Homo sapiens: one gene and its partners. The protein of the gene in region 1 interacts with the protein of each later gene in a biochemical or structural test. Each region holds a gene or a part of one and is shown on either strand. Other genes may lie near its edges.

Region 1 (7,024 bases):
TAAACCCTACTGCTGCCTTTTTTTAAGACAGGGTCTCACTCTGTCTCCCAGGCTGGAGTGCACTGGCTCCATGACAGCTCATTGCAGCCTTGACCTCCTGGGCTCAGTTGGTCCTCCCACCTCAGCCTCACCAGTAGCTCGGACTACAGGCACCCACCAACACACCCGGCTAATATTTTTGCAGAGATCAGGTTTTACTATGTCGCCCAGGCTAGTCTTCCAACTCCTGGGCTCAAGCTGCCCACCTCAGCCTCCCAAAGTGCTGGAATTCCAAACATGAACCACTCCACCTGGCCCCCTGCCTCTTACTAATTGTGTAACATTAAGAAAAAATATTAAAGTCCAAGATTGTTTTCCCATCTGTAAAAAGAGCATACCTCAGATATTTGCAGAGGGTTAAAACTAGTTAACACACTTAAAGGACACAGAATAGTCTGACACACATCCTAAATGATTGATAGAAGTTACTATTTTGAAGGGGTAAAGCACTATAAGCACTATCTAAACATAATTTAATAAAGCAAACTTTTTATTTACTCAATGGCTTAATTTTTTAAAACTGCATAGGCTTTATAAACTTTCCAACATTAAAAGGAAAAGGCCACAATGAGTTTTATATAAACATATTCTAATATTTTCAATGCTGCCAACTTGAAATAACCCAGAAATTTTTAAATAGTCCATGTAAAAAAATATATAAACTAAAAATTAGGTGGTATTTCAACTAAGACCCTTTAAATGTAGCTTCCAAAATCACCTTGATGACTTGGTCTACCCTACATTTATGCCAGTAATTTTAGTAAAGAATAATTTAAAACATAAAAGGAAATATACATGGAGCAATCCTGGCTGGTGGAAAATGTTCCGATTTAATAATCCTGGCTTTTCCCCATCAATAAACTTATTCTCTGGACTATTTAGGTCACTAGGTTTTTAACATTCCCAGTCAATATTAACTATTTTATTCCAAGATACCTCCCCTAATAAGTCTTTATTGTCAAACACCTTATTCAAGGTAAAAAGTTAGCCATTATACTCACTCCCAATTTTGGAATAGTATTCTTTTTCTATGTTCTATAACTTCGTATTATTTTTACTTTTTTAGAGACGAGATCTTGCTCTGTTACCCAGGCTAGTCACAGAACTCCTGGACATAGCGATCAGCCTCCCAAAGTGCTAGGATTACAGGCATGAGCCACCACACCCAGCCAATCCTTTAACTTTTAAACACTTCCTAACAACTTATGATCTTACATACATGGCTTTATAACAAGTTCTGACAGTTTAAAAAATACAACAGAATGTCAACCTGATATACATTTCAGGTATAAAACATAAATGACCAATCACTGTCATCTTTTAAAGTAATGTTACTCAAGCACACCATTAAATCCTTACTGAATTTTTCCAGTATTTTATCCATCATAATTATTCTTCTAAAATCCTAAAATGACAAACTAAAGCTAAGTCACTAGTTACCTAAGGGGAAGGGAGGAGGTTACAATGCAACTAGATAATATCACACGTTAGGGTATTTTACAAGTTGTATGAAAACTACCTTGGGAGAGAGCTTGACAAGCTTTCATCGAGTTCAAATACTAACCAGCCTTTTTAGATCTGATCTGGTATAAAATTCATGAAAACCACTTTTTTGAGACAGAGTCTCGCTCTATTGCCAGGCTGTGGTGCAATGGTGTGATCCTGGCTCACTTCAACCTCTGCCTCCCAAGTTCAAGCAATCTTCCCATCTCAAGCTCCTGGGTAGCTGAGACTATGGGTGCACACCACGAGGCCCAGCTAATTTTTTTTTTTTTTTTTTTTTTTTGTAGAGACAGGATCTCATCATGTTGCCCAGGCTGGTCTGGAACTCCTGGGTTCAATCTGCCCACCTCAGCCTCCCAAAGTGCTATATTACAAGCGTGAGCCACCGCACCCAGCCCACTTTTTTTAACTATTTAAAACTAATGAGACATTAAGGTTAGCCAATAACAAATCTTCCCCAAAAAACACTTTAGTCAATAAAAATATAAATTTTGGTATTATTTCCCCATCATTAAAGAATAGGTATTCCTCTCCCCCAGCTTTCTACAGATGACATTTTCAAGGTAAGTGTGAAAAAGAATTCCATTTATTCAAGACTAATATACAATGGACCAAACATTTTCAGAGACTTCTCTGTATTAAATCTCATTACTTCACACTTTAGAATGAACCTAACTAAATGACTACTAAAAAGCGAAGTTGAAAAAATAAACATCTAATAAATGAAACATGACAGTTTTTTTGGGAGGGGGACAGAGTCTCGCTTTGTCGCCCAGGCTGGAGTGCGGTGGCGCGATCTTGGCTCACTGCAACCTCTGCTTCCCGGGTTCAAGCTCTTCTCCTGCCTCAGCCTCCCAAGTAGATGGGACTACAGATGCCCACCATCATGCCCGGCTAATTTCTGTATTTTTAGTAGAGACAGGGTTTCAACATGTTGGCCAGGTTGGTCTCGAACTCCTGACCTCAGGTGATTCGCTTGCGTCAGCCTCCCAAAGTGCTGGGATGACAGGCATAAGCCACCGCGCCCGGCCAACATGACAGTTTTTTAAATAAACTTTTTTTTTCTTTTTTTGAGACGGAGTCTTGCTCTGTTGCCCAAGCTGGAATGCAGTGGTGCAACCTTGTCTCACTGCAACCTCCGCCTCCAGGGTTCAAGTGATTCTCCCGCCTCAGCCTCCTGAGTGACTACAGGCGCATGTAACCACACCTGGCTAATTTTTGTATTTTTAGTAGAGCTGGGGTTTCGCCATGTTGGCCAGGCTGGTCTCCAATTCCTGACCTTAGGTGATCCACCCATCTTGGCCTCCCAAAGTGCTGAGATTACAGGTGTGAGCCACTACGCCTGGCCTAAAAATAAAACACTTTAAGAGACCAGGTCTCACTATCAAAATGCAGTGGCTCCATCATAGCTTCCTGCAGCCCTGAGCTCCTTCCTGGGCTCAACACATTCTCCTGCCTCTGCCTCCTGAGTAGATGTAACTACAACTACAAACACACCCCCCAACACACTAGCCTTTTTTTTTTTTTTTTTTTTAAAGAAACAGGGGTCATATTATGTTGCCTAGCTGGTCTAGAAATCCTGGCATGAAATGATCCTCATACCTCAAGACTTCTGAGTAGCCAGTGATTACAGGCACGAGCCACTACTTTAATTAACTTTAAATGCTTAATCCAATACCTCCTTTTCACTTCACTACAAGGAAGCAATGACATCTTGTATGTTTACGTTTTAAATAAGCTCTCAATCAGCTTTGTAAGGTAAACTCCCATTTACCTAGAGGTTAAGGAATAGGTATTTTCCTTAACCTGAAGGTTAAGGTTCTGGTTAACTGAGATTACTACATATTCACAATTCTATAAAACTGTGTACTGGAAATCAATTTAGGTATCAATGCTGAAGTCAGAAAATGATTTGTACCTTGATGAATTTTCCAACGTTTTAAAATCATGTTACTTTTCAAAAGTGTAAGGAAAAATCTGTAGGAGATTCATTCCATGACATTGTCTGTTGGTTGCTTTTTGAGTATATTTTCTCATGGCTTCATCTATCTTGCTCATAAGACTAAATGGGGAGACAGACTTCCTGGCTGTGTGGGCTCTGTGGTAGTCTGAAGTCTAGATAAGCAGGAGTTTACAGTGCAAGACCCAATACTTAAACTGTCACCTTGATTACTGGCCAAGCACCACCAGTAAATTGGAGTCTTCCCTCCCCACCCCCAAATATTCTTAAATACCTAGCTCCAACGTACAATATAATACTCCAGAAACTAAAACATGCTTACCTTTACTCCACAGGAGTAAATCACTGGCAGTATCAACTATTAGGGCACTGGATAAATACACACAAGCTATGAAAGCAGGCTATGTAGTCAATCCTCCTGTGGTGAGCATTGTTTCCAACACATAGATCAGCAAACCAAGTAACAAACATGTCGTATTACCTGAAACCACACTGTTGGAAGTGAAGCAACAGAAAGAGATCCCACGCTTTCAGCATCCAGTTCAGTGCCCTATCTACTAAAACGTTGAAGCAGAACTGAAGTCAAATCAAGCTTGGACTAACATAAGTTATGTTTCACCCATTTGTAAATGTGCACACACTTGAGGTACACAGCTTCCAAGTGGAATGGGAAAAAAAATTACTCTATTCCTTTTTAAATGCTTTCAAGCATGGTATGTATTATGACTTGAAGGCTAAAACTAATCACATCCTTCACGTTGGCATAAATAGTATACTCAATATGTATACTCAAATGTATACTCAATAGTATACTCAAAATGTTCTCGTATTAGGGCAGCCTTACCCTAATATTATGTATTAGGACGATAGCAGAGTACCCAGGAAATATTAAAAACATACACTGAGTTTGTAGAAAGGGTCACATGGCTTAAGGGAAAAAACCCCAGATTTAAGGCAAAGTATGTGTATCTCAAAAACAAGCACTGAAAAACTTCAATGACATTCTCCCAATTCCAAACTTAAAAAACGAGATTATTTTTAGTATCTTTCATAATAGATGAAAATTTACAGTGAGAAGTATTTAATACTCTTCGCTTAAATGTTCATCTAAAGATCTGGGGACATCAATTTCTGGAATTTTTAACTCGGGAAATTTGTCAAAGGCTCCCAAGAATGCTAACACTGAGACCAATCTACGCAGGGTCTCAACTTTACTACATACAGTAAACCCAACTGTACTGAATCAAAGGCCAGTAAATTTGGCATGAGACTACTCTAAAAGAAATTATTTTACAAAGCAAACAATGTTCAGATTGCCCCAGAAGCACTAAGGTATAAGACCATAATCTCAAACATTTAAAGCAAAAACATGAGCCTAGTCTTTTATAATCAGACAGGCAACAACCTACAGCAGGATTCACAGAATTCCCAAATGGGAAGAATCACACTTGGGCTCATTATACACTAACCATTAACAGGACAATATCTACTGTCCTGTTATTAAAGAAGCATTGCTGGACTTTGGCTAAGTGAATGGGGGGACTTTTTTGCTTCCTACCCAATCCAATGCAGGAAAGTCTATGTACCTACCTTGTAAAACTATCTCAAAGTTAACACAACATTGTAGTTTCCATTGATTTTTAAACTTTAAAAACTCTGCCCTCAGAGAGCTTGCTACATGGCATGTATATTTTGCCAGACACTAAATAATTTTAAAGTACCTACCCCAAATGAACTGCAGCACTGCAGAGAACAGAATGGGTCCACACCACAAAGTAAAATGAGAAATTCCAATGCTTATAAGTAAAAACTACGGATGTTAATGTGGGAAAGAGTAAATCAAAGTGAACTCAGGAGGGCATACTATGGAAATAATTACTTATTCTAAAGTCCCATAGTAAACTGTAGAAACATCCACTAGAGGTGTAACAGGCATGCCTTCCTAAAAATAGCTGTCCATTCTTACATGCAAAAGGAAAAAAACCTATTTCTAAAACCAACTGATTTTTAAAGTATTTTAGGATGAAACTGTAATCACTTTATTCTCAGATTTGCAGAAGGAAATGCACACAGAACTGTGTTTAATAAATTCAATTTGGATACTCTATTAACCAGTCTTACCCTCAATATTGAGACTATAAAACTGTTGCCCTTATAATATCCCTCAAAATGGGAGAAAGAGGAAGGGACAGATACGGTGGGGAGTGCAGACACCAAAAAAAAAAAAAGAGAGAGAAAAAAGTCTGAAAGTTTTTCATTCAAAAAGAAAGCCTTAACGTCTGGAACAGGATAGGGCTGCATAATTGGAAAGTTAAGAAAAGTCAAATATTAGAGCCCTTAAAAATGAGAACATTATTTTTAAGTGTAATTTTAAAATCAACCTGGCTAGGCCGGGCGCAGTGGCTCACGCCTGTGATTACAGCACTTGGGGAGGCCGAGGCAGGCGGATCACCTGAGGTCGGGAGTTCGAGACCAGCCTGACCAACATGAAGAAACCCTGTCTCTACTAAAAATACAAAATTAGCCAGGCATGGTGGAATATGCCTGTAATCCCAACTACTTTGGAGGCTGAGGCAGGAGAATTGCTTGAACCTGGGAGGTGGAGGTTGCGCTGAGCCAAGATCACACCACTGCACTCCAGCCTGGGCAACAAAAGCTAAACTCCGTCTCAAAAATAAAATAAACCTGGGTAAAATTTTATTTTCAGTAAATGACAGTTGGTTACTATCTAGAATGTTTATTAACTATGAATATAAACATTTCTCCATTTTTCCTGAGATTATTCAAAAAAGTTGTAATATTACATCGTTTTAGGTAGCAGGTCAAGTGTAATTACTTCGAAGAGTCAAAACACTGACCTTCAAATTTAAGTTTATGGTCATTTCAAATCACTGGAAACAATTACATGAGACTCAAAATACATAATGGAGTAATGTCAAATAGTTTATAGTTTAATCTTAATTTGCCACTATTAGCTAGCAGTGAAATTGAGCTGCTAGTGCCCACCACTCACCAAATACAGGGAATAACATTCATCGAAACTGTGACCCCAGTCTTTTTTTTTTCCTCTTTTTTGCTTTTCCCCTTGCCTGTTTCCCATCTGCTTTTTCTCCAAGGTAAAGCTGGACTGATTTCAGTGGATGAGAATACAGTGATAAGCAAATCTTTAAATGTTACCCTAAATAGGCTCTTAAAATAGAATGTAGCTTGTAAAGATATAAGTTAACTGCCTGCAAGTTAGTGGCCTTCTACTCTCCAGTGGTGGTGTATAAACCCCTGAAAATTCAAATATAATCCTAAAAGCAGAAAGACTGACATTTAGGGGAGGGGAAAGGATGGATAAAAAGAACAATACTCAACCTACCAGCCTCCAAAGAGAAGTCATGCAATTGTGAATACATGTCAACCAACTGTTATTAATATTCCAGCCAAATCACACTGAAAATAAAAAATCTGGTAAGAGCTGTAGTGGAAAGCCACATTAGCCCACCTTTTAATGGTATATATATACACACACACACA
Region 2 (7,024 bases), on another chromosome or scaffold:
TGAGTGTTGCCTGCAGGCAGGGCCCCTTCCTAATGCCCTCCCCTCCTGAGTGGCAGCAGCCTCCACAGTACCCCATGCCTGGCCTCACGTCACCCTTGGGGGGAGGGGCACTAGCTGGAAGGACTTGGTTGTTAAGCCTCCAGCAAGGTAGGCCAATATGCAAAGCAGGGGGAAGGGGCGCCGCCCCCAGCATGCCTTACCCTGACATTCCTCCTCGGTTCATCATGTGGCCAGGCCCGGAGTGACCGGACATGCTTCTCTCGCCACCTGGAAGACAGACGTGCTTTCACACAGGGAACTTGCGCACACGGCGTGGAACCCACGGCACATTTAGCCCACTCCACTCCCTTTGGTGAGGCCCCCAGGTACCCACAACTAGCGGGTCCCAGGAAGACACCTGGGCACAGGGACCATAGACGTCCAGCTTCCTCCCAGCAGAGAGAACTCGGGAACGCCCACTGTCCAACTCCTGGGCCAGACCACCAGAGAGCAGGCGGTGTCTGGAGTGCTCTTCATTCCTCATTCCAGCACTGAGAGCAGAGCACCTCCTGTGCTCCCCCAAGGAGAGAAGGCGCGGCCTCCATCTTTCCATCACTCCCCAGCACATCCTGGTCCCAGCCCAGAGCTGCTCCTCACCTTGCCACCTCTTGTGATCCCTGTCCATCATGCCCCCGTCGGCCGTGCCCTGCCATGACCGGTCATCCTCTCTTCGGCCATGGTCCCCCCAGTCACGTCTGCCCCTTGAAAGAGAGACATCTCTGATTTGGATTGCCCCCATCTCTGGCTCTTGTGCTAATAACTGTGGCGGCTTCTGGAGAGTGAATCCCTCTGTGTTTCCCACCCTGTGCCCACATCCCAGCGACTTGCGGGCCCCCTTGTGGGCGGGGGGGGGGTCAGGTACTGTCGGGTGTGGGACACAAACCTGGGGGGAGGAGGCAGCCCCCGGCCCTCGCTCATCCTCTTGTCAGAGCCATAGCCCCCCCAGCCATCGCGGGAGTCCCGGCCGTGGCGCTCTGGTCCTCCATGGCGTTCTGGGTAATGCTGGACATCACAGAGCCAGAAGGGAAAAAAAAGCTTCAGTGTCAGCGCCCAGACCCCAAGGCTTTTCAGGCAACATGCTAACGATGACAACGACAGTCACTCGGGACAGAAGTGCTGGCAGGCTGTATCGGTTCACACAACACAGCTGCCTTCCTGAAATCTGCAGGCCAGAGGCCCTGTGCCCTAGGCTCATGGCCTGGTACAAAAAAGGTACTAGTACCAAGGCATCTCCAAGGCAGGTCCCCACAGCACCACCAGAGCTGGGAGGGCCACCAGGAGTCACCCACTAAAGATGATGCTTACAAGAGAGATTCCCTGGGTCCCACAGCTCAAATGGTTAGTTCCCAGAGCCAACAGTATTCTCTTACTGTCTTCTACTAAAGAAAGGTCAGGTTTATAAACCTTTAATGTGTGCATATTCTGGAAATAATTTTTACAAATTTCTTCCTTCCACAGTGAAGGAAGTATCAAATGGAGCCCTTCATCCGACCAATTGCTAGGCAAGCATCCTTCCTCACAGTCAAGTTTCTCGGAAGTTTCTGCTGGATGCCCAGTCCAGGGTCTTGCACCTTGCTCTGCTCAGGATATAAGACACAGGACACTGAGAGATAAACGGCTGGCCTTCCACTTGGCTAGTCCCACCTTTCCCTCTTCTGTGTCATTGTTTTTGTAAGCCACGTGGCTAACACAGACCAGGAGTTCTTGACCCTGCTGTTTCAGGGAAGACCAAGAGAGGGCGAGTCACACTCTATGCCTACTTATTTGATGGCCAAGGTTAATATTTACACCCACAGCCTATTTCTGTGGCTGGAAGCACTTTCCAGCCTGACTTTCACAAAAGCTAGTGAGGTAGCTTTGGCTCCACAGTCCTGTTTTTTCTCTTTCCACCAATACATATGTGGTCTCTGGGGTTTTTGCCCCATGACCACATTGTAGGTGAAAGGAAACTAGAAAGGAGTCCTGGTAAGGAAACCCCCTTGACACAGGCTGGTTGTTGTCCATGTCCAAGTTCACCTCCCCGTTCAACGGAGAGCTCTGCCAGGGTGAAGGGAGAGATGGCGGCATGCTCCACCACGTGCACGATGTCCCACGTTACCACTGCCTGCTTCCTGGCCTATCCTCCCAGCATGTGCTCTGATGCCTCCCCTCAACAAAGTAAGAAAAGGGACTCCTGAAATAAGCTCTCCTTAGTATTTGAAAATTGAACCAACATTTTTCTGTCCAACCAACCCACGTAACTGTTCAATGAGGCCCATAAGTTCTGTGCTAGTTTTCTCTGTAGGGAGATGTTACCATTTCCCTTTGGGGTAACTCTGACGACTCATTTATGACTGTGTATGTGAGGAGAAGGGATCAAACCGCGTTCCACTGTTAGGAGAGCATATCTAACACCTTCATGAAAGCAGCTGGTGGCCAGGTGTGCTGGCTCACATCTGTAATCCTAGCACTTTGGGAGGCCGAGGTAGGAGGATCACTTGAGCTCAGGAGTTCAAAACTGGCCTGGGCAACATAGTGAGATCCCGTCTCTATTAAAAAAAAAAAAAAGTAGCTGGCAATGATAAACACGTTTGTACAGATGCGCCCACCTCATGTAAACCCCCACCACCGCACCCTTTGTAGGAGGAATATTACCCTCATTTCACTCCTGGGGAGACAGGCTCAGCAGGAAGGGGTGACACCAAGGTGTGACGCCAGTTCTGATTCTGGAGCCTTTACATGGAACCATTGGTGTATGCTCCTCCACCAAAGAAAATCCACAAGACTAGTTCTACGTTTTGCTGCATATAATTTGCCTCCAGGAGCAGGGAAAAAGGAACCCCACGAGGCTGATGGAATTCCTGAGGATCCCGAGACAGAGCTGAGTACTTGGCTATGCTCAGCCACATTAAGGAACCAAGGGGGACAGAAGCGGGAAGCTTATGGTGGAGTCCAGAAAATGCTGGCAGGAGGAGGAAGGGCTCATGAGTGGAGTCCTCAGAGAGGAGGCATCTTCCACACAGCAATGTGCTGCCCCCAAGTTTATAGGGAAAGCCACTAGAGGTCCAAGGCTCTCCTGGGAAGTCTCAGTCTCAATGTAAGATGGAAGGAGAAAATGGAGCTTATTGTTCTAATGTGCTAGCCCCCGAAGAGAATGAGCACAGACCACAGATCTAGTTGTTTTCCAAGGCTAAGCTGGGCCCTGGGGTGATGAAGGATGTCCTTACTTTCAAAAGAGGGCAGGCACTCGAGGACAGACACAGCAACCACAGCCTCCCCAGATGCACCTGTCTGAGTCAGCTGTGCGGCTCACTAGACACTTCCCAGCAGAGCCAGGTCACATCCCAAGGTTCCCTGGCACTGTTGCACATGTGTGGTGAGTGTGGCACACAGAACCCCAGGGTCAAGGCTAAAAACAGCTTCAGAGTAACTGTTTGGACTGACAGCCAAGACTAACCCCAAATAATCCCAAATTTCCATTCCACAAACCTAGACTTTTCTAGTGCTTTACTTTTCTCTTTCCTCATTTTGCCTCTTGCTCAAAGAAAGGGCAGGAAGAAGGCACGCTGAAGGGAAAAGAACCCATTCTATGGGAAATTCTGTGGCTACCACTGTAGCTTCAGACTTACCTGTCCTTCTCGTTCTCCCATCATTGACCTTGAACCTTCTCTCCTGAAAAGGCAATTTAAATCAAACCGTAAGGGGAAGAAGAGGCTTGTTCACAAAGAGAGGACCATCAGGCCCCCAATGAAAAGCATAATTTCCCTAACTGAAGGCAGGAGACCTGCGGGTCTGACTCAGCATACATCTGATGAACGGAGTGGGTTCAGAGAGCCCAGGAGTCCTTGTTCTCAGTCAGAATGAGCCAGGAAAAAGAAAACCCGCACGCCCAGCAGGGGCCCAACTGACCTGTCCACCGAGTGGTCGGGGTAGCGGCCGCGGTCCCTGTGGTCAAAGTCGTGGAAGCGGTCCTGGCGGTTAAAGTCAGAATGGTAGCGCTCATCCAGGGCGGCCCGCTTGGCTTCCGGCCAATAGGCATCATCTCGCCTGTGAGGGGACATGAGACAGAGATAGAGGGATCCCCCACCCCAAATGTATCTATCACCTTTGTGGGAGCTGGCCCCTAGCACTTCACAGAACCAGGATGACTTTCACCAAGAGTGTTCTCTCCTATAGGAGGCAAGGTCTGATTTGACCCCAGTGACTGCACAGTTGTTTTGTTTTGTCCCATGCACCCACCTCCCCTGATGAAAAGCGGCCTCGGTTTTCCAAAGAGGGAGCCATTAGTTAAGCAGTCAGTCCTATGGGCTGCCTGCAGATGGCTTCTGGAGCCCTACACAGCCACCTCCGCTCAGGAAGACCACGTGAGCCTCCACCCCGAGGGGCTCTGTCAAGTGCACCTGCCATCTCTCTCGCCCCAAAGCTGACCTCCTGCCCTGCCAGCAGCCCTGGCCATGTACTGCTGCAATACACAGATGACCATAATGAACTGTCATCAGAAGGATTTCGTACCAAAGCATAATAGATCCTAGAACAGTTTACAAGGCCCTTTATAGAAGTTGCATTGTATATATGACCTGGGCTCCTCTTCAACCCATGCAATAGAAAGAAACAACAAACAGCAATTTTTGCCAGGTTGCAGTGCACGTGTAAAGCCTGACACAATCACTGCTGGAATTACACACCTGACTCCTCACAGCAGCCATGCTCAGCATTTTGTGTTCATACCTCCTCTTCAGTATGTTTGAGAAATTAAAATTAATCTTACTGCCGGGCGTAGTGGCTCATGCCTGTAATCCCAGCACTTTGGGAGGCCAAGGTGGGTGGATCACCTGAGGTCAGGAGTTTGACAGCCTGGCCAACATGGTGAAACCCGGTATCTACTAAAAATGCAAAAAATTAGCCGGGTGTGGTAGCACATGCCTATAATCCTAGCTACTTGGGAGAGTGAAGCAGGAGAATTGCTTGAACCCAGGAGGCGGAAGCTGCAGTGAGCTGAGATCACGCCATTGCACTCCAGCCTGGGCAACGAAAGCAAAACTCCGTCTCAAAAAAAAATTTTTTTTTAATTCTTTATTTCTAGAATAAGCAAAAACAAATTACAATGGATTTAAAAAGCCAGGACAAGGCCGGGGGTGGTGGCTTACGCCTGTAATCCCAGCACTTTGGGAGTCTGAGGTGGGTGGATCACCTGAGGTCAGGAGTTTGAGATCAGCCTGACCAACATGGCAAAACCCCATCTCTACTAAAAAAAACAAAAATTAGCCGGGTGTGGTGGTGGGTGCCTGTAATCTCGAATACTAGGGAGGCTGAGGCAGGAGAATCGCTTGAACCCAGGAGGTGGAGGTTGCAGTGAGCAGCGATCGCGCCATTGCACTCCAGCCTGGGCAACAGAGCGAGACTCTATCTCAAAAAAAAAAAAAAAGGAAAGGGCCTTAAAGGAGGTGCAGTAGGGCACGTGTGGCGCTCTCTACGTGCCTGAGCTTCCCTCCTCAGGAGGTCTGTGCCACCCTTGAACCTGGTTAGTTAACCAGCACTACTTTATCCAGCCTCCTGTCTCTAATTTTTTTTTTTTGAGACCGAGTCTCACTCTATTGCCCAGGCTGGAGTGCAGTGGCACGATCTTGGCTCACTGCAACCTCTGCCTCCTGGGTACACGCGATTTTCCTGCCTCAACCTCCCCAGTAGCTGGGATTACAGGCGCCTGTCACCACGACCAATTTTTTGTATTTTAGTAGAGACGGGGTTCTGCCATGTTGGCCAGGCTGGTCTTCAACTCCTGAGCTAAGGCAATCCGCCCACCCTGGCCTCCCAAAATGTTAGGATTACAGGCGTGAACTAGCGCACCCGGCCTATGCTTCCTTTGAATGAAAGATCTCAAGCTGGCCGGTCGCGGTGGCTCACAGCTGTAATCCCAGCATTTTGGGAGGCCGAGGCAGGTGGATCACGAGGTCAGGAGATAGAGACCATCCTGGCTAACACAGTGAAACCCCGTCTCTACTGAAAATACAAAAAAATTAGCCGGGAGAGGTGGCAAACGCCTGTAGTCCCAGCTACTCGGGAGGCTGAGGCAGGAGAATGGTGTGAACCCGGGAGGCAGAGCTTGCAGTGAGCCAAGATCGGGTCACTGCACTCCAGCCTCCGCGACAAAGCAAGACTCCGTCTCAAAAAAAAAAAAAAAAATCTCAAGCTAACTGGACTGTGAGGTCCCTAACACGATTCTGAACGCCACGTGCTAAGGGCAGCATGGATCTGCTTACCGGTCCAGGTCGTAGGGCCGCCGCACCGCGGGCCGCCGCTCCTGCTCATAGCGCAGTTCCTGCTGGCGCCTCAGCTCCTCGCGCTCACGGTGGATGCGCTCCTGCTCGCGCCTGCGCTCGTGCTCCACGTGCATGCGTTCGCGCTCCAGCCGTTCCCGCTCCATGCGCTCCCGCTCCAGCCGCTGGCGCTGGAAGGCCAGCCTCTCTCGGGCAATCTCCAGCCGCTCACGCTCCTCGCGCTCCCACTGCGCCTGCATGCGTTGTTCGCGTTCACTGCGTTCACGCACCCTGCTGCACAACAGTAGAGCTGCAGAAGGGGACCTAGACACCCCCAGCCAGGTCCCAGGGCTGACTTTAAGTAAGACGCTGGGTCGCACAGACTCCAGGGCTGTGCGTCCACTACGTGGTCTGCAGAACCGTACACTCCAGCGGGAAGAAGGCTTCTCGGGCCCACAGGAGCAGCCCAGGAAGATCTCAGGAGTGAGGCCCAGGCTGTGTGTGTGTGATCAGAACTGGGCCTCCTTTCTCCAACATTTCCTGGAGCTTGACAAGTGATTTCAGGAAACAGCCAGTCAAAAATAAGCAACAGGCCGGGCGCGGTGGCTCACATCTGTAATGCCAGCACTTTGGGAGGCTGAGGTGGGTGGATCATGAGGTCAAGAGATCGAGACCAGCCTGGCCAACATGGTGAAACTCTTGTCTCTACTAAAAATACAAAAATTAGCTGGGCATGGTGGCACGCACGC
Region 3 (7,041 bases), on another chromosome or scaffold:
GCCACAGAGATTATTTGCAAACAAAAGTTATTCTGTTGCTTACTTAAAATAAAACATATCTGGAAATGTGGCACACAATTTTTAAAAATCCCTTCAGCAACACATCTAAGTATTTATAAAATTAGGGTAGTTTGTTTTAAAATCTACTCAATCCTGACAAAAATCAGGTGGTTAAACTATTGACTGATAAACTGTAAAGGTGGTCATCAAAAACTTCATTGAACAGCTCCAGTCCAGCTACTTAATGACTAATGGTGAAGAAATGTATGTGAATGGGATATAAACTAAGTTTCGACACACAGCAGAAGAAAAAAATTTAGAATGAGTAATAAAGGGCCCAAATTTAAAGTCCACAATAAACTTTAAACAAAGATGTTTTCTCTTCTCTTCTCATGTTAGCAAATCACTGTGGAGAAATCCAACCTCCACAAAACTTGTTACTCCGTCATTAACAACAGTGCACTTAAATATAACTATAGATTTCACAAGGGTATTTATTTTAGCCGCAAACATTTCTTACAAGCAACAACAACAAAATGCTCAGAAGCTATACTCAGTAGTCTCAGTGACTGAAAAAGTCCGGCTTTTAACTGCCATCCAATCCAAACAACCCACTTCTTTAGAAAGCTATGCAAAATATTGACCCCTTACTGAATTATTTTACTATTCAACATTAAACTATCTAAAAGAGAAAAGTAATTAATCGCTAAGTTTAGTTAAGCAATTTAGCTGACATAGTAAATATTTACTCTTCACATCTCACAGGAAGTCTTGACAAGCATTTGCTGCTATTCTGCTGGGGGTAGGGGCGGGAGGTGGGGGTGGGAGGCAATTTTTGATAAACAAGTTACAGGGTCCCAGCGAACTGAACATAGCTGGTGTTCGCCACCCCGACCCCCAATTAGGCACCAGATATTTTCCAAGAACAGTAAACACCTTATATAATGAAAGTAAAAAAAAAAAAAGTAGCTTTCTAAACTATGTATCTCCACTAACAAAACAAACAAAAGCCCCTTTAAAAACTACCAAGAGCACGTTTTTTAAAGCTGTGTGTACGTTTTTTACTTATACGTAAGGCCAATCGCAAAAAAAAAACTAAGCAAAGTATATTTACCTTAGCTTTTTAGAGACTGAGTAATCAACTTCCATGATTTTCCCATGCAATTCCACTTTACCTTTAAAACAGAAATTAAAGCACTCAGAACCTTGCTTAGATCAAGCCCGCGGGGGTCTAGGGGGGGCACGCACGGAACTCCACGCTCGGGCTCCGCCTTCGGGCGCCCCCAAGGGGTCTCCTACCCGGATCGAGCTGGGCGAACTTGGTTCCCAGTAGAAAGAAAGGTGGGCGCCCCGTGTCTCGGGACAAGGCGAGGAGGGTGCGAGCCCGGGTCGGACCCCAGGTATAGCCGTGGGTGGCATTACCGGAAAAACAAATTTAATAAAGAGCGGCGCCAATTTGAAAGGATGAGCTCATTTGAAACTCAAGCTGCAGGGCTGGCGCGGCCCCGCTGCTCTCCCGGCCCCCACCTCTCCATTCCGCTAATCCGGGGCCCGAAGGCTCCACCGGGCTCCCCTCCCTGCCCTCTCCTCCCGGTGGCCCCGAGAAAACGAGCCGAAGCCCCCCGGAGTCCGCCGCAGCGACAGCCCTGTCCCTGCCCGCTCCTGGGTGTCACCTTGGCCTCGCCGCCGCCCCGCCCCCACTCCACACGCCGGTGGGGAAGGGGCTCCCGCCGGGCCGGGGTTCGGGGGGCGCCGGCCGGGGCCCGGGGGCCCGCGCGGCTGGGAGCGGAGCGTGTGCTGGGGAGAGTTGGGGAGTGCGCGCGCGCGAGTGTGTGTGTGTGTCGCTCTCCGTCTCCTGTCTGGGCTCCAGCGCGCTCGCGGGCCCCCCGGTCGCCTCTTTCCCGGTTCTCAACCCTGGCCCCCACCGAGTTGAGACAGGGCACCTCGTAAAAAGGTGCTTCTGGCCGAGCGGGAGGCGGGGGGACGGGCGGCGGAAAGCCCCCAGCCCCGAGTTCTTCTCAATAAAATCGGACAAAAAATTCAGAGAAAAATAGGAGCGCTTGAGAGAGCAAGCGAGAGGGGACTGAGGTTCGGGAAAGGACCGAGGGGATGTGCCGTCGTGCGAGGGCTGGGGCTGGGGGAGCCCCGAGATCTCGAAGGGGGTCACCAGGGTGGCGCCGAGGGGGTGCCAAAAGTGGGGGGCCGTGGGGCGAGGTGGGGAGGGGGCTCGAAAGGAGAGTGCGGCTCAGGAGACGCCAGAGGGCGAGAGGTTCTGGGCACGAGGCACTGGAAGAGAGAAGGTCCGGCCGGGGGAGGAGGAAGAGACGCTGGATTTGGGGAAGGGGGGACCCTGACAAAGGGGGTGACAGGAAGGTCAGGGGAGAAGTGAGACAGGGGACGCTCAAAGGGTGGGGGGCGGGGAAGCTCAGAGCAGCCCGGGGCGCCAGGCGAACGAGGGGTGCCCCTAAGGAGCCGGCGAGCCTCGGGAGCCTTCGGAGCGGCACGGGGGGCGCCCCAAGGCTGCGGCCCCGAGGGCGAGGGCAGAGTCCAGAGCTGTGGGGGGAGGGGAGCGGGCCGTCCCAGGAGCGGGCCGGCGGCGAGAGTTGAGGGTCTGGTGCGTGGAAGTGAGCGTGCGGGCGCGGGAGCCGCCGCCGGGCGCCGCCCGCCGGACTCGGCCTCCCTCCCGGCGCCGTCCCGGCCTGAGCGGGGCGAGGCGGGGGGAGGGGGCCGCGCTGAGTGCTCACCCGAGAGGGTCTCGATGGCGCGGATGGCCCAGTTCTGGTCGGGGTAGTCCACGAAGGCGTAGCCGGACTTCAGCAGGACCTGTCCCGCCAGGGGCAGCTTCCTGTCCCCAAAGAGCTGCCGGAGGTCGTCGGCGGTGACGGCGGGGCTCAGGTTCCCGATGTAAAGCTTGTTCATCATCCGTCTCTTCCCCGAGAGCCCGCGGCTCCCCCGGCCCGGTACCCGGCGCTCCTCGCCTCCTCCGCTGCCCTCGTCTCTCCTCCTCCTCCGCCCCCCCTCCCCGCCCTCCGCCCGCCCGCCACCCACCCCCACCCTCAGCCTGGCTCCCCCCACCGCGGCCGGCCCGGCCCGCCCGGGGGCAGAGGCGGAGGCGGGGACTCGGCGCGGCTGCCTCCTCGGGGCAGAGTCCCGGGCCGGGCGGCGGCGCGCGGACAAAGCGCTCTCTCTGCCTCCCTCTCTCTCCCTCTCAAGGCGGTGGCGGGAGGAGGAGCAGCGGCGGGCGGCGGCAGCGCACCCCGCGTGTGTCTGTGTGAGAGTTTGTACGGGCGTGTGCGCAGCCGAGAGGGAGCGAGCGAGCGCCCCCTCCCCGCCCCGCGCCGCTGCGCCCCTCGCCTCGCGCCCACCGCGCTCGGCAGTGGCTGCTCGGGCTCCGGCCCCGCGCCAGGCGGGCGGAAGCGGGTCGCGGCCCCGGGCTGGGGCTCCGGGCGCCGGAACCCCGGGCGGGCGCGGCGCCGAGGCCGGGCGAGCGGCGGGGCGGGGAAGGCGCGCCCCGGGCGCGGGTGGGAGCGCGCGAGGGGGCGACGGGGAGCCGCGGGCGTGGGAGGGAGAGGGGCTGCGAGTGAGCGCGGAGAGGGGTGTGCGCAAGGTGGACCGGATGTGAGTGCGCTGCTGCCAGGGCAAGCGGGAAGGTGTGTCCCGGAGGTGAGAGGCGAGGGCAGGCTGGGAGACAACAACTTTCGCAGCGACTTGGCCGGGGCTGGCGCCCTGCGCGTTCCCGGGCCGTGCGCTCGCTCTGAGACCCGCTCCCCGCCACGCTCTCTGAGGTGACCGAGCGGCGCGTGTGGTCGAAGGATCGCGCGCGGGAGTCGGGACGCCTAGGACCGGGGTTGGCCGGGCCCTCGCGGACCGTGCTCGCGGGGAAGTGGTTCCCGGTCCCGGGCCTCAGTTTCCCGACCGGGGAGGGAAGGCGGAAGGCCAGCGCGGAGTCACGTCCTCTCCGCCCAGACCCCGCGTGTCCGGAACCCCGCGGCAGGCGGCAGCCTGACGTTGGCAGCTGCTCTCTATTCTGGGAAGTGCCGAGGGCTTCCCGGGCGGCGGCGGCGAAAGCCAGGTGGCGGGTGGGGAAACGAACGCCGAGGGGCCAGGGACTGCGGCGAGGCCGGAGCGCTGGGGTCAGCGGCCGGGGGACGGATGGTCGCCGCCCGGCTGCGCGGCCGGTTCAGCTCCAAAGCCAGGGTGGTGGGAGGCGAGGGTGGCTGGAAGCGGAGGAGCGCAGGCTGTGTAGGAGTTCCCCGAGCACTGGGAAGGGCCCGGAGAGGAAAGAGGTCCTTCCAAGCGGAGGAAACAACGTGACCGACGGAAGAGGCAGGGTTGGGATGAGAGCAGGCTGGAGCCGAGGGGCTCGGGCAGGAGCCAGACAGGCTAGAGCGGGCTGCAAGTTCCGGGGCCCGGCTGGAAGCCTGATGGTTAGAGCCTGGTCCCAGCCAGGAAATGAAATTCTACAGGAGGGAGAAGAATGGCGGGATTCAGAGGTGAGGAGGCAGAAGAAGATTCCAAGCTCTGGACCTCTGGGGGCCACTGGGAGAGTTGAAGGTTTGATCGCGGATATGTTGGGTTTTGTGAAGGCGTTGGGGCGCGGGTGCGGGGAGTGTCCTTGGGTGGAGAAGTCACGAATGTAGGAATGGAACAAGTTCGGGTCTCCTGACTGGGTCGTGAAGTAGTATTGTCTTTCCCAAGCTTTCCTGTTGATGAGCGGCGTGGAGAGAATGGGGCTTGCTGGATTTTGTATTTTCCGCAAGTACTCCCAGGTGATTCTGGTCTGGTAAACACTGTTGGAGTGGAAGGCCTATCTGCCCCGGACTCAGACCTTCTCTCTGCCCCCATCTTTGTGCCCTGAGATGTTCCAGCATTCTCGAGCCTAAGTTTCTTCATCTATAAGGAGATAAAATAACCAGTCCTCGCAGGGCTGTTGTGAGGGCTACAAGAAGGATAACTGCCTAGCGTGTTGAGACATGGGTGGTCAGACACTTAATGCCTGTTTCTCTTCTTTCCCCCAGGAATTCATGAACTTTTAAAATACTTTATTCTACAGAAGGAGATCTTCTTAACTAATTAGGTATCCAGAGGAGAAAGTAATGAATCCATTTTCACCTAGATATTTGCAGTTATTTGAATTCTGGCTTTTGTCTCAAGTATTCACATATTTTTTTCTCTCTCTAGAAAAAGAATCGGATTTTACTGCTCCAGGAGTTGAGAATGAACTTGGTTACTAATCCCCAAAGTAATAGATAAACTAGGTGTGGATGCTTCTTTACTAAATTGTATCAGAGAATCACAAATGAACATGACTTGTGCATGCATAAACCTCAGCAGACTGAACTAACCATCTTTAGATTATTTACACATGTGCTCCTAATTGATATGGTCACCTTTATATTATAGGACAGCATATTTGCTTATTATTCACAGGTACATGTAAAGGAGAAACGAGAGTGGCAGGAATAGTTGGCCTCATTCCTCTCCAACAGGTCAGAAAAACTTGTTGTTGTTGTTGTTGTTGTGTAGCATTTTAGATACATCAATTATTTGGTCTTACTGTGAGACGAAAAACACATTAGACAATGTACAGATTCTTGGCAGAGGTGGTGTATCAGTCCATTTTCATACTGCTCTGAAGAAATGCCCAAGACTGGGTAATTTATAAAGAAAAAGAGGCTTAATGGACTCACAGTTCCACACGGCCCAGGAGGCCTCCTCATAGCGGAAGGTGAAGGAGGAGCAAAGGCACATCTTACATGGGGGCAGGCAAGAGCACGTGTGCAGGGGAACTGCCCTTTATAAAACCATCAGATTTCGTGATACTTATTCACTATTGCAAGAACAGCATGGGAAAAACCCACCCCCATGATTCAGTTACCTCCCACCGGGTCCCGCCCATGACATGTGGGAATTATGGGAGTTACGTTTCAAAATGAGATTTGCGTGAGGACACAGCCGAACCCTATCAGGTGGCTTCTGGTGAACTCTTCTTACCCTGCTTCACCAAGTCACTTTGAAATTTTTTTTTTCAGAGAAATAATTGCTCTTTGCTGCAGTTGTCAGCTGTCCTGCTGGAATTTTGGAAACAGCAGGGCTGCAGAAGGAGGGCTTGAACTGTAAGTGTGATGGAGGGCATGCTTCCACTACACCCCTGGTTTGCAGCATCTACAGTGCCTTATCTTAGAATGCAGAGTTATTTTTCACATGATAGAGAAGGGGTTGGGGACCTTTGAAGACAATAGGGGACAGCCTCCAAGTGCAAAGTCAGAAATTCAGAGGCCTTGCTCCTGCCAGGCAAAACTTATTTTCTACCTGTTTTCTCTCGAGTTCCCCTACTTATCCCTCCCCCAGAGAGCTGAAACAGAGACCATCTTGATTGATCTAGACTTGGTTTACACCTGATAAGCCAAGATTTTATGAATGTTTAACAGAGGTCAGAAATTTGGAGAAAATCTTATAGTAGGCATATTACCTTTTAAAGCATGAATTAACTAATGTTTTCCTCAAGAGTTTCAAAGGCAGTACAGATCCTCATTGTTTCCCAGCGATTCTTTTGGGCAAGACAGTGATAAGGTGGCTGGGACAAGCTTTCTTAATCCTTCTTTTCAGGTAAGAAAACTGAAGCTCAGGAAAGTATAATTTTTTCTTAATCACATGGAGGGCCTGAAACACACCTGGAAAAAACATTTTAGTCTAACAACAAAGAGTTCATAAGTGTTAAGTCTTTTTCTTTTCTTTTTTTTTTTTTTTTTTTAAAAAAAGTCTTACTGTCACCCAGGCTGGAGTGTGGTGGGGTGATCATGGCTCACTGCAATCTCAAACTTCCAGACTCAAGCAGTCCTCCCACCTCAGTCTCCCGAGTAGCTGGGACTACAGATGCATGCCACCATGCCCAGCTAAAATTTTTTTTAAGAGATGGGATCTCACTGTGTTGCCCAGGCTGGTCTCAAACTCTTGAGCTCAAGCGATCCTTTTGAACCTACAAAGCTATAGCGGAATGTTTTTTTGCTCAACTGATAATGTAGTCAGTATAACCAGTGT

Evidence for each region. Proteins that work in one complex are often made in the same cells at the same time.
Region 2: the proteins of HNRNPD (region 1) and SAFB form a complex in vitro, tested with the Homo sapiens proteins (one study listed by BioGRID).
Region 3: the proteins of HNRNPD (region 1) and IGF2BP2 form a complex in vitro, tested with the Homo sapiens proteins (one study listed by BioGRID and IntAct).

The regions. Positions count from the first base shown.
Region 1 is NC_000004.12:82,363,971-82,370,994, forward strand, and holds part of HNRNPD (heterogeneous nuclear ribonucleoprotein D0), read right to left. Parts: intron 1-7,024. UniProt on the Homo sapiens protein: Binds with high affinity to RNA molecules that contain AU-rich elements (AREs) found within the 3'-UTR of many proto-oncogenes and cytokine mRNAs.
Region 2 is NC_000019.10:5,661,063-5,668,086, reverse strand, and holds part of SAFB (scaffold attachment factor B1), read right to left. Parts: intron 6,570-7,024; coding exon 6,279-6,569; intron 4,066-6,278; coding exon 3,928-4,065; intron 3,691-3,927; coding exon 3,648-3,690; intron 1,042-3,647; coding exon 923-1,041; intron 741-922; coding exon 637-740; intron 268-636; coding exon 201-267; intron 1-200. UniProt on the Homo sapiens protein: Binds to scaffold/matrix attachment region (S/MAR) DNA and forms a molecular assembly point to allow the formation of a 'transcriptosomal' complex (consisting of SR proteins and RNA polymerase II) coupling transcription and RNA processing.
Region 3 is NC_000003.12:185,822,039-185,829,079, forward strand, and holds the start of IGF2BP2 (insulin-like growth factor 2 mRNA-binding protein 2), read right to left. Parts: upstream 3,005-7,041; 5' UTR 2,923-3,004; coding exon 2,745-2,922; intron 1,376-2,744; exon of another isoform or gene 1,300-1,375; intron 1,176-1,299; coding exon 1,115-1,175; intron 1-1,114.